Homo sapiens: one gene and its partners. The protein of the gene in region 4 interacts with the protein of the main gene of each other region in a pairwise test. Each region holds a gene or a part of one and is shown on either strand. Other genes may lie near its edges.

Region 1 (3,500 bases), on a different chromosome or scaffold from region 4:
TTAGAGATACATACTGAAATGTTTATGGATAAACTTATATCATATCTGAGATTTGGTTTTTACAGGGTATTTTTTTTTTTTTTTTTTTTTGAGATGGAGTTTGGCTCTTGTTGCCCAGGCTGGAGTGCAATGGCGCGATCTCAGCTCATTGCAACCTTCGCCTCCCCGATTCAAGCCAATCTCCTGCCTCCGTCTTTCAAGTAACTGGAATTACAGGCAGGCTCCACCACGCCCAGCTAATTTTGCATTTTTAGTAGAGATGGGGTTTCACCATGTTGGTCAGGCTGGTCTTGAACTCCTGACCTCAGGATCCACCTGCTTCGGCCTCCCAAAGTGCTGGGATTACAGGTGTGAGCCACCACACCAGTTGAGATTAGCGTTTGAATATTTCAAAAGAAAAAAACAGAAGTCGCTGAAACAACAGCAACGGAATGTTGATAGTTGTGGAAGGTTGGTTATGGGTTCATGAGGTTTCATTATACTGTTATACTTTTGTATGTTTGACATTTTCCATAATACTTTTTTAAAGATAAAATTTGTAAGAAAAAAAGGATGCTTCTAAAATAGAACATGTGAAATTTGGAATGCTGTGTGGTAGTTTTCAACAAAACACTGCTTTCTCATCTCAGTATTTATTTCATCACTGAGTTCCTACATTAAATTGCATTGACATCAGTATAATGCCAAAGTACCAAGTTTCATGCTAAGAATAGCTTAAGAGCTATGCCAATATCTCTTTATAAGCAGTAAGAACAGTAGAGAGAGAAACATTCACGTTTATAAATAATAATTTTCATTCAAATCAAATTGTACCGTAAGGAATATGCCATTCTTTGGTTGGCCAACGCCATACATTGTTTTCCATTTTACTTAAAAATTTCTAAGTTAAAAATTAAACATGTTTCTTGTTTTAAAAAAAGGTCAGCTCAAACTAGTAAAGCACATAGATGCGTCCCATCACCACTCCACTTCCCTCCTTTTAAAATTTGTTTATAAGCCTTGGTACTTTAAAAAGAATGTTAGACTAGAATGTATAAATGAGTAGGAATGTTTATTCTTAACTAGCCCATTTGGGTGCTTGTTTTTAAGTACCTCAAGATGGTAAAATACAAAAGTATCAGGTAATTCACCCTTGCTTAATTGTTATTTTACTAGAGTTTTAAATGCCATTTATTCTTAGAATCCATCTTTTTAGTCCAAACTTCTTAGTTGAGCATTAAATACTCCCTTACAATCTGGTCCTTTCTCTCACTTATATAAACACTGTATTCCAAATTATTTTTTAATTTCCAAAATATCTTCTACTTATTTTAGGCTTTTGTTCATATGGTTAGACTCCTCTTAAGTGTCCTGTCTGCCTATTCTTTCCTTTCCTTAAGATACAACTTTATTCATCTCCAAAATGGAGAGAGTAAAAAAAATTTTAAAATAAAAGTAAAATAAACTTTTTTTAAAGATATAGCTTCAAATCCATCTCAGCTGATAAGGCTTCTTAGACCACAAGAGCTTGCTGTGAAATCGTGAATCATTTTCAATTCCAAATGATGAGGTGGCACTTTTCTTCTAATGAACTGTTATGTTAGATCTCTTGGAACTCTAAAGTTCTGTTACTCTGACTTTCTTTAATAAGTTTGTATGTGCTAAGGCATCAACTCTGTTTCTTATTCCCCTCTTACAACATCTAACATGGTTCATCTTTTATATCATTTTAGCCAGGCAAATTACCATCCATATGTGAAGTTTAATCTTTGAAGGGCAACAATAAGCATGTTAAATAACAGTATCTTTATTAGTATTTTCTAACATTGTTTGCGGACCTTGAAGTTAACTAATACCAGTATAAATTGAGTACCTCCTAGGTGCTTGGCGTTGAAAGATACAAAGCTGAATGAGACCCTGTTCCTGCCCTCAGAGACTTCATAATAATAGTCTCAAACTTGTCATAAATCTTATTTGTACTAAATAGCCATTTTGTGAATAACTTTATTTGATAAATCTTTCAAGTGGATAAAGGAACAAGAGATGTGTTTTTAACTCAGAATTCTTATTGAAGCAAAACCTTGCTCACCATCATTAAAATAAGAGCAAAGACTTTCTAAAAAGAATTTTTCAAATCAAATTACTTAGGGAGGGAGTTCATTTTAATTTTCTAACATTTCCTCTAAACTGATTATTAAAGTCATACTATGAAATTCGTGAACACCAGCTATTTTCTAAGGAATATAGTTCTTAAAATATAGTTTTGAGCTTGGCCTTGATCTCCCATTTATTTCAGCAAGTGTCATGGTGTGTCTAAGGATGTAAAGATGAATATGATGTTGCCGTTCAATAGCTCCTGTCAGACCCTCCCTGGAGTTTCAGTTTGGCCAAACAACTCTCTCAAGCACTTCTGAAATCCTATTTCTTTTACAGAATTCACACCGTGACAACTTCACCATGTTTCTTAAATTCTAATAAATAAAATATGTCACATTCGAAATCCATACATTTTCTTGTTATATAAAAACTCTACATGTTTAGTGTTACTTAAAACTGTTTTCACATCCTTTGGTGCTATTTGCATTACTTTAGTAAAATAGATAGAAGATAGTTTGTTAACCTGATGTTAAAATTTACACTTATGTACTACATGAGTAAGGTAATTAGAAAATCTATAAAACTCTTTTAAATTCATCATATTTCTTGAAAGAATTTTTTTTTTTTTTTTGAGACGGAGTCTCGCCCTGTTGCCCAGGCTGGAGTGCAGTGGCACGATCTTGGCTCACCGCAATCTCCGTTTCCCAGGTTCAAGCTATCCTCCTTCCTCAGCCCCTCTAGTAGCTGGGATTACAGACACGCGCCACCGTGCCCGGCTAAATTTTGTATTTTTAGTAGAGACGGGGTTTCACCATGTTGGCCAGGCTAGTCTCGAACTCCTGATCTCAGGTGATCCACCCGCCTCAGCCTCCCAAAGTGCTGGGATTACAGGCATGAGCCACCGTGCCTGGCCTTTCTTGAAAGTATTTTTAAGGTAATGACAGAGCTACAAATTAATCCTAAACTCTTAACCACACCCAACTGATGTACTCCTAGTTGCTTTGCTACTATATTTAAAATGATCAAACACCTAAGTCAATTACTTTAATATTCTTTGGAGACCAGCTTACTGAAAGAACCTCAACACAGTTAATATATTTGAAGCAAAACTCCAGCACAGTGAAGTAACAGTAATAACAGCTGAAATTCCTAAATGGGCCAAAGAGGAAAGTAAAGTAATGCAGCATGCACTAAACCAAGCGATACATATTTAAATAGTTATGAATGAGTTTAGAACAGTGGTTCTCAGTCTTGGCTGCACTTAAAATGCTTGGGGAATCTTTATAAATGCCAATATATGAGCTACACCCCAGTCCAATTAAATTAGAATCTTAGGGGTTGGATCAGACCAGACATCAGTGTTTTCTAAAGCTCCCTCAAGTAATTCTAAAGAACAGCCAAAATTGGGAACCAATGGAGAAAGA
Region 2 (3,500 bases), on a different chromosome or scaffold from region 4:
TCCGGGAGGCAGAGGTTGTAGTGAGCCAAGATCAGGCCACTGCACTCCAGTCTTGGTGACAGAACAAGACTCTGTCTCAAAAAAAAAAAAAAAAAAAAAAAAAAAAAAAAAAGAAAATGGGCAAGTACTGCAGGGAAAAGAAGAGTAACCAATACTGCGAGTTCCTACAGATTAGAACAGTGCTATCCCTAACAGAGGCCAAGACAGAGTAACCTCTTTCTCACACTGGGGGAAAGAACAGAAGAAAGAGGGCAGAGAAGTTTGTAAGTAGAGGAAGGGAAAGCTCAGGGAGTTCATGCCCTTTTTTCCTATGAGGTGGCAGGCAAGGTATTCTGCCAAGCATGGGGCAGTGACAGGTTTGAGTCAAGGGGTCCAGATTTTATAATAGCAACTGTGGAGAAATGGGGAGGGAGCTAAGCAGAACTGCTCCGACAGGGACCAAAGACAGATTTAAGGGAGACCTCGGACTACACATTAATTGTGGCACTAATCCCCAGCACTATGCAGGTTTCTCCATGACACGGAGTAAGAATGGAGGGTATGGATGGTAGGGATGATGTGAGGCTGGCTTCTGCATAGTAAGTCCTGAAGAATAATAAGAAAGAATAAAAACTGCAAGCAATGCAACCCAGAGGTCGTAGTATAGAAAAGGAAGGAAAAGAAGTAAAATCTGGAAGAGGCCGACGGTTTAGGAGACTTAGAGTGGGAGAACACACATAAAGTGATTATGAAAGTGAAAGCTATCAATTATCACAGTTTAAGACTTGAAGGTGAATTTGAGACCTTAACATGATGACAAGTTAAAAATGTGGCCATAACACTAAACAACTGGAACAGAATGAAGCCAATGTTTGCTTGAGCTCAATTCAAGAAATTTCACAGTTAACGGTAGTTACAAAGGAAACTCAGCATAGTGGTTACTTACTAGTACTTATGATTTTGGGGAAGTCACTTGGCCTGTTTTAGTTTCATCTGTAAAATGGGAATAACAGTATTTATTTCATATGGCTGCTATTAGGGTTAAATTAGTTAATAAACGTAAAGTGCTTAGAAAAAAGCCTGGCACACAGAAAGTGCTCAATATGAATAAGCTATTTTATCACTATTGTTGTTTCTGTTATTGTTTATTTACATAGTCATTGACATCTGCCAAGATGATGTCAAAAATCTGGATGAAAGAGAGAACTAAGCCAACAATATAGTAATCCAAAAGAGCAATGGGGCTGGGCACAGGGGCTCATGCCTTTAATCCTCCCACTTTGGAAGACTGAGGTGGATCACTTGAGCTCAGGAGTTCAAGACCAGGCTGGGCAATAGGCAATATAGTGAGACCTCCATCTCTACAAAAATTTAAAAATTAGCTGGGCATGGTAGCGCATGCCTGTGATCCCAGCTACTCAGGAGACTGAGATAGGAGGACCACTTGAGCCCAGGAGGTCAAGGCTGCAGTGAGCCATGACTGCGCCACTGCACTCCAGCCTGGGCAATAGAGTAAGAGCCTGTCTCAAGGGGAAAAAAACGGGCAATGGTAGAGGGTAGTATGGTTGAATGATATGCTTTGGTATAAACAATGTGATATTAAATACAAAAAATAGGCCGGGCACAGTGGCTCATGCCTGTAATCCCAGCACTTTGGGAGGCCAAGGTGGGTGGATCACCTGAGGTCGGGAGTTCGAGACCAGCCTGACCAACATGGAGAAACCCCTACTTTACTAAAAATACAAAATTAGCTGGGCGTGGTGGCACAGGCCTGTAATCCCAGCTACTAGGGAGGCTGAGGCAGGAGAACCGCTTGAACCTGGGAGGTGGAGGTTACGGTGAGCCGAGATCGCGCCGTTGCACTCCAGCCTGGGCAACAAGAGTGAAACTCCGTCTCAAAAAAAAAAAAAAAAAAAAATATATATATATATATATATATATATATATATATAAAATATATAAATTTTTAAATCCATCAAACATTTACAAGCTTGTGACTTCAAACACTATACAAAAAACCACAAGACAAATGTAAAAGTACCAATTGAGTATTAGATAATAAGTACAGTATTATGTACATACAACATTACAAAGAATTTTGAAAATGCTCTGACTGGAAATCACGGAAACCATATCAGGATACTAAATTGTACTAAAATGAAAAGGAGTTGGAGTTAACTTTATCTCACCATTTCTATATAGAAATGGTAGCCCAGGTGCAGTAGCTCATGCCTGTAATCCCAACACTTTGGGAGGCTGAGGTGGGTGGATCACAAGGTCAGGAGTTCGAGATCAGCCTGGCCAATACGGTGAAACCCCGTCTCTACTAAAAATACAAAAATTAGCTGGGCATGGTGGTGTGCACCTGTAGTCCCAGCTGCTCGGGAGGCTGAGGCAGGAGAATCACTTGAACCCAGGAGGTGGAGGTTGCAGTGAGCCAAGATCACACCACTACACTCCAGCCTGAGTGACAGAGTAAGACTCCATCCCAAAAAAAAAAAAGGGCAGGGCACGGTGGCTCATGCCTGTAATCCCAGCACTTTGGGAGGCCAAGGCAGGCGGATCAGAAGGTCAGGAGTTCGAGACCTGCCTGGCCAACATGGTGAAACCCCATCTCTACTAAAAATACAAAAATTAGCTGGGCATGGTGGCAGGTGCCTGTAATCCCAGCTACTTGGGAGGCTGAGGCAGGAGAATCATTTGAACCCGGGAGGCGGAGGTTGCAGTGAGCTGAGATCACACCAATGCACTCCAGCCTGGGTGACAGGGCGAGACTCTGTCTTAAAAAAAAAAAAGAAAGAAAGAAAGAAAGAAGTGGTAAAGTGTGAGTTCCTGGAAGGTAAAGAACTAAATCTCTACATGCACCCTCAGTTAATGGGTAATGCCTATAGTAAAAGAGCATCAATGAATCAGTGGCCCGTTAACCAAACAGTTCAACTCTGAGAAGTCCAAGGCATCTTTTTATTTTTAGCAGGCAAAGTCTGAGCCCAGAGTGGAGTGCAATGGCGCTGTCTTAGCTCACTGTAATCTCAAACTCAAGCCATCCTCCCCACTCAGCCTCCGAAGCACTAGGACTACAAACACACACCACCCACATCCAGATTTTTTTTTTTTTGGTAGAGATGGGGGTCCTGCTATGTTGTCCAAGCTTGTCTCAAACTCTTGATGTGAAGCAATCCTCCCGCCTCAGCCTCCCAAAGCACTGGGATTACAGATGTGAGCCACTGCATCCGGCCCAAGGCACCTTTTGCAGGTTTTTCCTACCACAGTCACATCTGTTTAATTTCTCTTCTATCCTGACAAGCTGCACAAAAAAAGTTCAAGAAGTATGCATATTTATTCACACTGTTTCACAGAATCCAGATATTCACCAGTACCTGTTCAAACGAGGCCATCTTTCAAAGAGAAATACATGAAATAGACATAAAATAACTTCAGAGCATTATGAAATTATATCATGTTAGTTTACAAGACCAAAAGGATATGCTTCCTCCTGGAAAAGATCTACTATGATTAGCAGC
Region 3 (3,353 bases), on a different chromosome or scaffold from region 4:
CGCCCTGCCTGCCCGGCCCCACCGAGGCCTGAGCACGTTCCCGGGTGCCGAGCACTGCCTCCGGGCTTCCCCCAAGACCACGCTTAGCGGTGGCTTCTTCGTTGCTGTAATTGAACGGGTCGAGATGCCGACGTGAGTGAGTGGGGGCATGCTTGGGAGGCGCAGGATGGTACTGGCACATCTAACATCTACATTTCTCTAGCTCAGCCTCACAGGCCAAAGCATCAGCACCAGAACGCACACCCAGCCCAGCCCCAAAGAGAAAGAAGAGAGCAAAAAGCTGCAGCCGGTGCTTGCACACCGCCTTGCACATAGCAGAGGCTCCGGGCTCACTCCTTCCTGGTGGGAAAGGAAGATGCCTGTCCTCTCCGTGGAAGACCCTGGGCCCTCACCGCAGGCAGCAGTTTGCGTTTTGAAAGGTTATTGGGTCCCTTCCTCGGGCTGTGTTCTTGCTGGTGAGCAAAAGTGTTGCCTGCAGAAATAAAATGCAGAACGTACTCTACGATAGATCACAGTTTTTTATTCTTAATGTCACAAGCAGGAGAAAAATCTCACATTCATACTAAAAATTCCAACTAGACTCAACAGGAATGAAGTCTCTATTTGTAATGGAAAGTCCCAGCCTCCCGCTGCCGTCCAGTGCGTGTACTGTACACATCCACACTCATTCTCACTCAGGGTTCCCGGACCGGCTGTCCTGCCTGCGGAACTGAGGTAAACTAGCTCAGGTACTGACACTAGGAGGGTCTACCTTACATAAGGTACAGGTAGAAGCTTGATTGCTAGGCCCAGGCCCACCCAGACCCTCCAATCCTAACAGGTATTTAGGCTTGAGGTTCACTCCCTCCTCAGCTGCACACGCAGCCAGGTATTAACGAGGATCAGAGCTGTTCTGAGGGGTGGGAAGGAGCAGCCCCGCCACCACTCACTCACCCTCAGTCACATCGGGGAGGGGGCACCAGTTACATTTACATCACATTATTTATAAAATAAGAATTACATTTCATATAACATGGCCAGAAGGAGCTCTAGTCCCCCAGGAAAGCTGCCGGGGACAGCATTTGAGCCTCTTCTTTGCACAGGCATAACTTAACTATACAGCTAATTCCTAGTTAATAGCATTTATACTTAACCACCTCAATGAACCAAGCTTGAAGGAATTTAAAAGGCAATTTAGCTTAAATACAAAAATAAATTTTTGTTAAAAAACGTTTAAATATTTTTTTCTTTTAATTTAGACACACGCATTCATACTTCTCCCAAAGAGGTTGGGCGTGGCAGCAAGGCGCTTGGGCCTGGGGTATGTGGTTTCAGAAGGACGGAAGGAAAGGATGGGCTGCAGAGGGCCCTGTTTGGGAAAAATAGGATTTTAAAAATATGGTTCATTAATTTAGGTTTTCTAACATCTACTTTGGGTGATGTAGCCTCCAGTGAGGTCAGTTAAGTGGGACAGAAACGGCAGAGGGAAGAGGTCTTTGCTTCCCCTGGGCCCATTCTCCCTGGCTGCCAGCCCTTGAAGTCAGAACACCATGGGAAAATTCAGGAGTCGGCACTTGTAGCCGTCAAGTGGTGCTACTTTCCACATTCAATTAGCGAGGCCCCAGAAAACTTGAAACAGGAAGTCCGGCACTACCAACATGCCGCCACTCATACAACTCAACTCTTCCTCCAAACTCGATTCAAAGAGCAATACACAGAGCATCAGACAAAGGAACACAGGACAAGGCTTGAAACATACAATCCTGGAGAGGCAGACGAGGGCCCAATGGGGCCAAAGGGTAGCTGGGCGAGGAGGCAGCTGAAGCAGCGGTGGGCATCCTGCCTGCTCCAAGAGCTTCTCCCTTCACCCCTGGCTCTGCCAGGCTAACAGTCTTGAGCCACCAAGCTCTGAGGGGCCAAACTGGCAGAGGGTTGGAGATGAAACATTGATTCAGGCTTGGCAGGAAGAAAACGGCAGGAGCAGCACCCACTGGGGTCTCCAAGGCAAAGCTAGATTCAAGGGCATTTAAAAACGAAGGAATCCTGCAAGGAACTGGTGAGGGACACAGCAGCAAGAAATGGGGAAACAGAGTCCCCAGAAGGGACCAGAGGAAGAGAACCACTTCTCACAGCTAAGCCAAGCAAGATAAAGCTTTACGGATAGCCCATTTCCCAAATCCCATCAGGTGCACACCACCGATCCAGGCGGGCTGGACCCTGCCCCCTCCAGCGACGACGGTCTCGGGGAAAGGTGGAAGGGGCGCCTGCCTAAGGGTGTGCTAAGCGGGAGTCAGGGCAGCGGACACTATGTACAGGTGTTTCCTTAGTTCTCCAGCCTCCCCAGTAGAACTGTTCAAGTAGAGGTCCCGGGCTTTGGCCCTCCGCATCCTGCTTCCCCTTCCCTGAGGCTTGTGCTTCCTCCAGAAGGGAAAGGGCCCCAGGGCTGCCACTGCCCCCTGGCGGCTGAAGCCAGAGATCCGGGGTAGGTTTGCTTTACGCAACTGGAAGGGTCCAAGGCTCTTCCTAGCAGGTGCCAAGGTCCAGATTTAGGGAAGGGGTGGGGGGAACAGGGACAGGGGACAAAGGCTACTTTTTGCGGGTGTGCTGCCTTCGGGCCTGCAGTCGCTGTCGAGCCCCTGGGGTCTTGGATCCCGCACCAATGGAAAATGAAAGGGCCGCCGATCCTGGAAAGATTCAACAAGACCTCATCAGGGCAGCTGCTACCTGAGACTCTGACTCTGGGTGCCCAAATCTCTGGAAGGCCAGGCCAGTAATAAAACACAGGGTGCCTCAATAGGGCTTTCCCCGCTGCATCAGAAACACTGTACGGGAGAAGCCTCCTGAAATGCAAACTCCCAGAGAGTCTCAGAGCGAGGCCCAAGAATCCATTTTTACCTGGCTTCCCATGGGAGGCAAACTTCCACCCCGGACAGCTCCTCTCTGATCTCTGCCATCCAACTCCCATCCCTGGGTTGTGCTGGACTCCTAACCCGAAATGTCTTTCCTGTGCTGAACCTGATCTTCACCGGGCCTCAGAGGACCAGGAACCTGCCACCCCGCCCAACCCCTCCTCAGACAGATGAGCAGGGCCACAGGGTGGCTTGCTGCTTACCGAAAGGTGCAACACCAACAAAGCCTTGGGCGGGTGCTGAGGATGCCCCAAAGGAGAGGCTGCTGCCTGATGTGCCCACTCCAGGCGCAGGGGTGTTCAGACCAAAGGTGGGGGTGGCGGTGCCTGGAATGAAGAGAACAGAGAGCTGGCCAGTGAGCAGAGGGCAGAGGCAAGCGAGGAGCCGGGCAGGAGCCTGTGCTCCGCAGGGCACTTCCCACGGGACCCTCAGCCCCACTTCTGCTTCTGGGGCACTCCTCCATCA
Region 4 (3,495 bases):
CCACCCATGGCTGCCCATGGACCAATAGGCATGTACCTCCTCCCCTGTGAGACCCATAAAAAGCCCCTGACTCAGCCAGACCAGAAGAGACGATGGGACGACCAGCTGCGGGGAGGAGCTACCCTCTCTGCTGAGAGCTGGAGAGATGACAGGACAACCTGCCCACAGAGAGGAGCTACTCTAGCCAGGGAAGCAAGCAGGCATGCCAGCTCTTTCTTTTCCAGTATTCCTGGGCCCAGTGGGGTCTTCTCACTCAGTTACAATATTTGATCTAAGAACATTCACTTTCCAACTGATCAGAAAGTAAAGGTGACTGGCATGGTGTGGCTGTGAGAGATGCAGTGTGACCTCAGAGGTGAACATCAGTGCCGGGACCATTTGGAGCAGGATGTGGTAACCACCAAATGGAAACCACGGCCTTTTGGCTCGACCTAGAGCATGAATGTAGCAAAGCGAAGCCCTGTACACTTTATAAAAACCAGCAGAAAGACACTCCAGTCTGAGTGAGCAGCTGGAACAAAGCTCTGCTGAGCTGAACACTCAACAGGACTACCTGCCTGCAGAGAGAGGAGCTATCCTCTTTGCTGAGAGCTGAACACTCGTTGGGACACCCTGGCTGCGGAGAGGAGCTGCCCACTGTGGGTCTCCTCTGAGCTATCCTATGGCTCAGTAAAGCTCCTCTTTGTCTTGTTTACCCTCTGCTTGTCTGTGTGTACCTCATTCTTCCTGGATGCAGGACAAGAATTGGGACCTGCTGAGTGGCGGGGCTAAAAGAGCTGTAACATGAAGAGGACTGAACCATGCGTCTTGCTCGCCACATTGTGGGTGTCCAGAAGGAAAGAAGAACTGCGGCCCTTTGGGGAGTCCAGACCCAGGAGCTTCCCAAGCTGGGGTTCTGACACCCTCTTTAGGGCTCTGCGGTTCCTGGTATCTGCAAGCTTCCAGGCACCACCATGCTTCCCAGTGTCAGCTGTGGAAGCTGCTTATGGTACACCTGGTCTAGCTGCAGCCTTGCAGGAAACCAGCACCTGTGTTGGCACCTGAAGCTGCCTGCCCCACCGCAGCCCACATGCCTAGCTGTGCGCAGTGGCCAAACCCCACACTCATTCGCTCACACACCCCTCGCTGCCCCACTCGCCCTTGGCAGGTGTGGGATCCAGGCCGGTAGCATGAGCTGAGCACAGCCTGCAGGGCCGAGTGGGCCCAATGGGCCCGAGCAAAACAGGCAAAGGCATCACTGGCCACAGAGGTTTCCAGCTGGTAAAGCAACACCCCAAAGATCCCGTGACAGTTTATGGCTGCGGTGAGCTATTATTGCGTCACTGCACTTCAGCCTGGGCAACAGAGCAAGACTCTGTCTCTTAATCTCAGCGAGTACAACAGGAAGATGTACTGAGCCCCAGACCACCCCATCTCTCAAGGTGACTGCTTGGATGGGCTGGCGTGACTGGGAAGGCCTTTGCCACTTTGCTGTCTCCTGGATTCCATATCTACTGGATGGGTGCCATCTTGCCTCTAGCCAGGGAAGCAAGCAGGCACACCAACTCTTTCCTTTCCAGTATTCCTGGGCCCAGTGGGGTCTTCTCACTCAGTTACAATATTTGATCTAAGAACATTCACTTTCCAACTGATCAGAAAGTAAAGGTGACTGGCATGGTGTTGCTGTGAGAGGTGCAGCGTAACCTCAGAGGTGAACATCAGTGCTGGGACCATTTGGAGCAGCATGTGGTAACCACCAAATGGGAACCACGGCCTTCTGGCTCGACCTAGAGCATGAATGTAGCAAAGCGAAGCCCTGTACACTTTATAAAAACCAGTAGAAAGACACTCCAGTCTGAGTGAGCAGCTGGAACAAAGGTACCACCTGAATAGAGGGTGTGTGGCAAGGGCAGGCACGAGACAGGAAATCAGACTGGAAGAGTAGGTTGGGCCTGGTCATGCGTGCCAAGGCAGGCAGCATTCTCTAAGGAGCAGTGGTAAGCCATCAAGGCATTTGTTACTAGGGGTGTGACAATATGAGATTGTATTTTCAGAAGATGACTGGGGCTATGATGATGAATGCTTTGGGTGGGAGTGGAATTAAGCCAGAGAAACCAGCTAGTTCACTACTGCAACCATCCAGCCAGGATACTGGAGACTTTTATTCAACATTAGGCAAATACTTGCTGAGCACATGCTATGTGCTAGGTACTGTTCTAGGTCCCAGGGGTGCATCAGTGAACAGACAACTGTCTCTGCCCTTGTGGAGTTCACATTCTAGCAAGGGTGAAAGAATGATAAACAGTTTATGTAGGTGAAATACATATATATATATATATATATATTTTTTTTTTTTTTTTTTTTTTTTGAGATAAAGTCTTGCTCTGTCACCCAGGCTGGAGTGCAGTGGCACGATGATAGCTCATTGCAGCCTCTACCTCTTGGACTCAAGTGATCCTCTGGCTTCAGCCTCTAGCGTAGCTAGGAGTATAGGTGCATGCCACCATGTCCAGTTAATTTTTAATTTTTTTGTAGAGATGGGGTCTCCCTACGTTGCCAAGGCTGGTCTTGACCTCCCGGCCTCAGCAATCCTCCTGCCTCTGCCTCCCAAAGTGCTGGGATTACAGACATGAGCCACCACGTCTAGCCCTAAAATATATAGCATGTCAGATGGTGATGAATGCTAACGAGAAAAAATACGGAAAGGGATATAAAGATTTGCAGCAGGGGGACAGATTATAAATTTAGAAAGTATAGTCAGAGAAGGAAGTCTTATCAATGTGATATTTGAGTGAGGACCCAAAGGAGGTAGCTGGAATGTGGATGCCAGTGGAGGAGAGGAGACGGTGGGTTTGAGAGACATAGGAGACAGAATCAACAGGACTCAGAGCCAATCAGTAGGATGACGGGAGTGAAGGAGAAAGCTGAGTCAAAAAGATTTTGATTAGAGGTGACACAGGGCCACTGTAGACCCCTGCGCAGGCGGCACACCACGCAGCCTGCCGAAGTGTACGTGGTGGCCCTGGGTGTCTGGAGATGGTGATGCTGTTCAGCAGGACCCAAACCATAGCCGAGCCCTTCCTTTTCCTCCATTGGTGTCATCTGGTAGTTTGTCTTCCCGGGTAAGAAGGTTGTAAATTTCTTAAGATGATGATTGTGTCATCCCTGATAGCCCCAGATTAGCCAAGCCAAGTGCTGAGCACATTCCTGGTGCTCAGTAAATGTCACTGTTAAAGGGGGCTTCCCAGAGCCACACAACACCCAGAATAGCCCGTGGCCATGGGGCCTCAGCCTTACTCATTCTGGAGCTCCCAATGCCACTTCCATGGTGGCCTTTCCTGGTAGATGCTAGGAGGCTGGCCTCTCCAGGGTGGGAAGGCATAGGGTCCACTGTGCAGACACAGCCCCACAGGGGATTTGGCTTATGGGCTGGGTAGCAGCCTCTGGCCCTGTGGACGGTCAGGGCCCATGCTGGTGTGTGTGCGTGATGCTTTCTGCTTTCATTTTTCCGTCCTC

What was found. The genes of interacting proteins can lie anywhere in the genome.
Region 1: the proteins of JMJD7 (region 4) and SH3GLB1 interact in binary tests that used the Homo sapiens proteins (3 or more experiments, as listed by UniProt).
Region 2: the proteins of JMJD7 (region 4) and KIF1B interact in binary tests that used the Homo sapiens proteins (3 or more experiments, as listed by UniProt).
Region 3: the proteins of JMJD7 (region 4) and POM121 interact in binary tests that used the Homo sapiens proteins (3 or more experiments, as listed by UniProt).

The regions. Positions count from the first base shown.
Region 1 is NC_000001.11:86,707,576-86,711,075, forward strand, and holds part of SH3GLB1 (endophilin-B1), read left to right. Parts: intron 1-3,500. UniProt on the Homo sapiens protein: May be required for normal outer mitochondrial membrane dynamics. Required for coatomer-mediated retrograde transport in certain cells. May recruit other proteins to membranes with high curvature. May promote membrane fusion.
Region 2 is NC_000001.11:10,213,570-10,217,069, reverse strand, and holds part of KIF1B (kinesin-like protein KIF1B), read right to left. Parts: intron 1-3,500. UniProt on the Homo sapiens protein: Has a plus-end-directed microtubule motor activity and functions as a motor for transport of vesicles and organelles along microtubules.
Region 3 is NC_000007.14:72,945,447-72,948,799, reverse strand, and holds the end of POM121 (nuclear envelope pore membrane protein POM 121), read right to left. Parts: intron 3,215-3,353; coding exon 3,092-3,214; intron 2,664-3,091; coding exon 2,566-2,663; 3' UTR 501-2,565; downstream 1-500. UniProt on the Homo sapiens protein: Essential component of the nuclear pore complex (NPC). The repeat-containing domain may be involved in anchoring components of the pore complex to the pore membrane. When overexpressed in cells induces the formation of cytoplasmic annulate lamellae (AL).
Region 4 is NC_000015.10:41,831,092-41,834,586, forward strand, and holds part of JMJD7 (bifunctional peptidase and (3S)-lysyl hydroxylase JMJD7), read left to right. Parts: intron 1-3,495. UniProt on the Homo sapiens protein: Bifunctional enzyme that acts both as an endopeptidase and 2-oxoglutarate-dependent monooxygenase.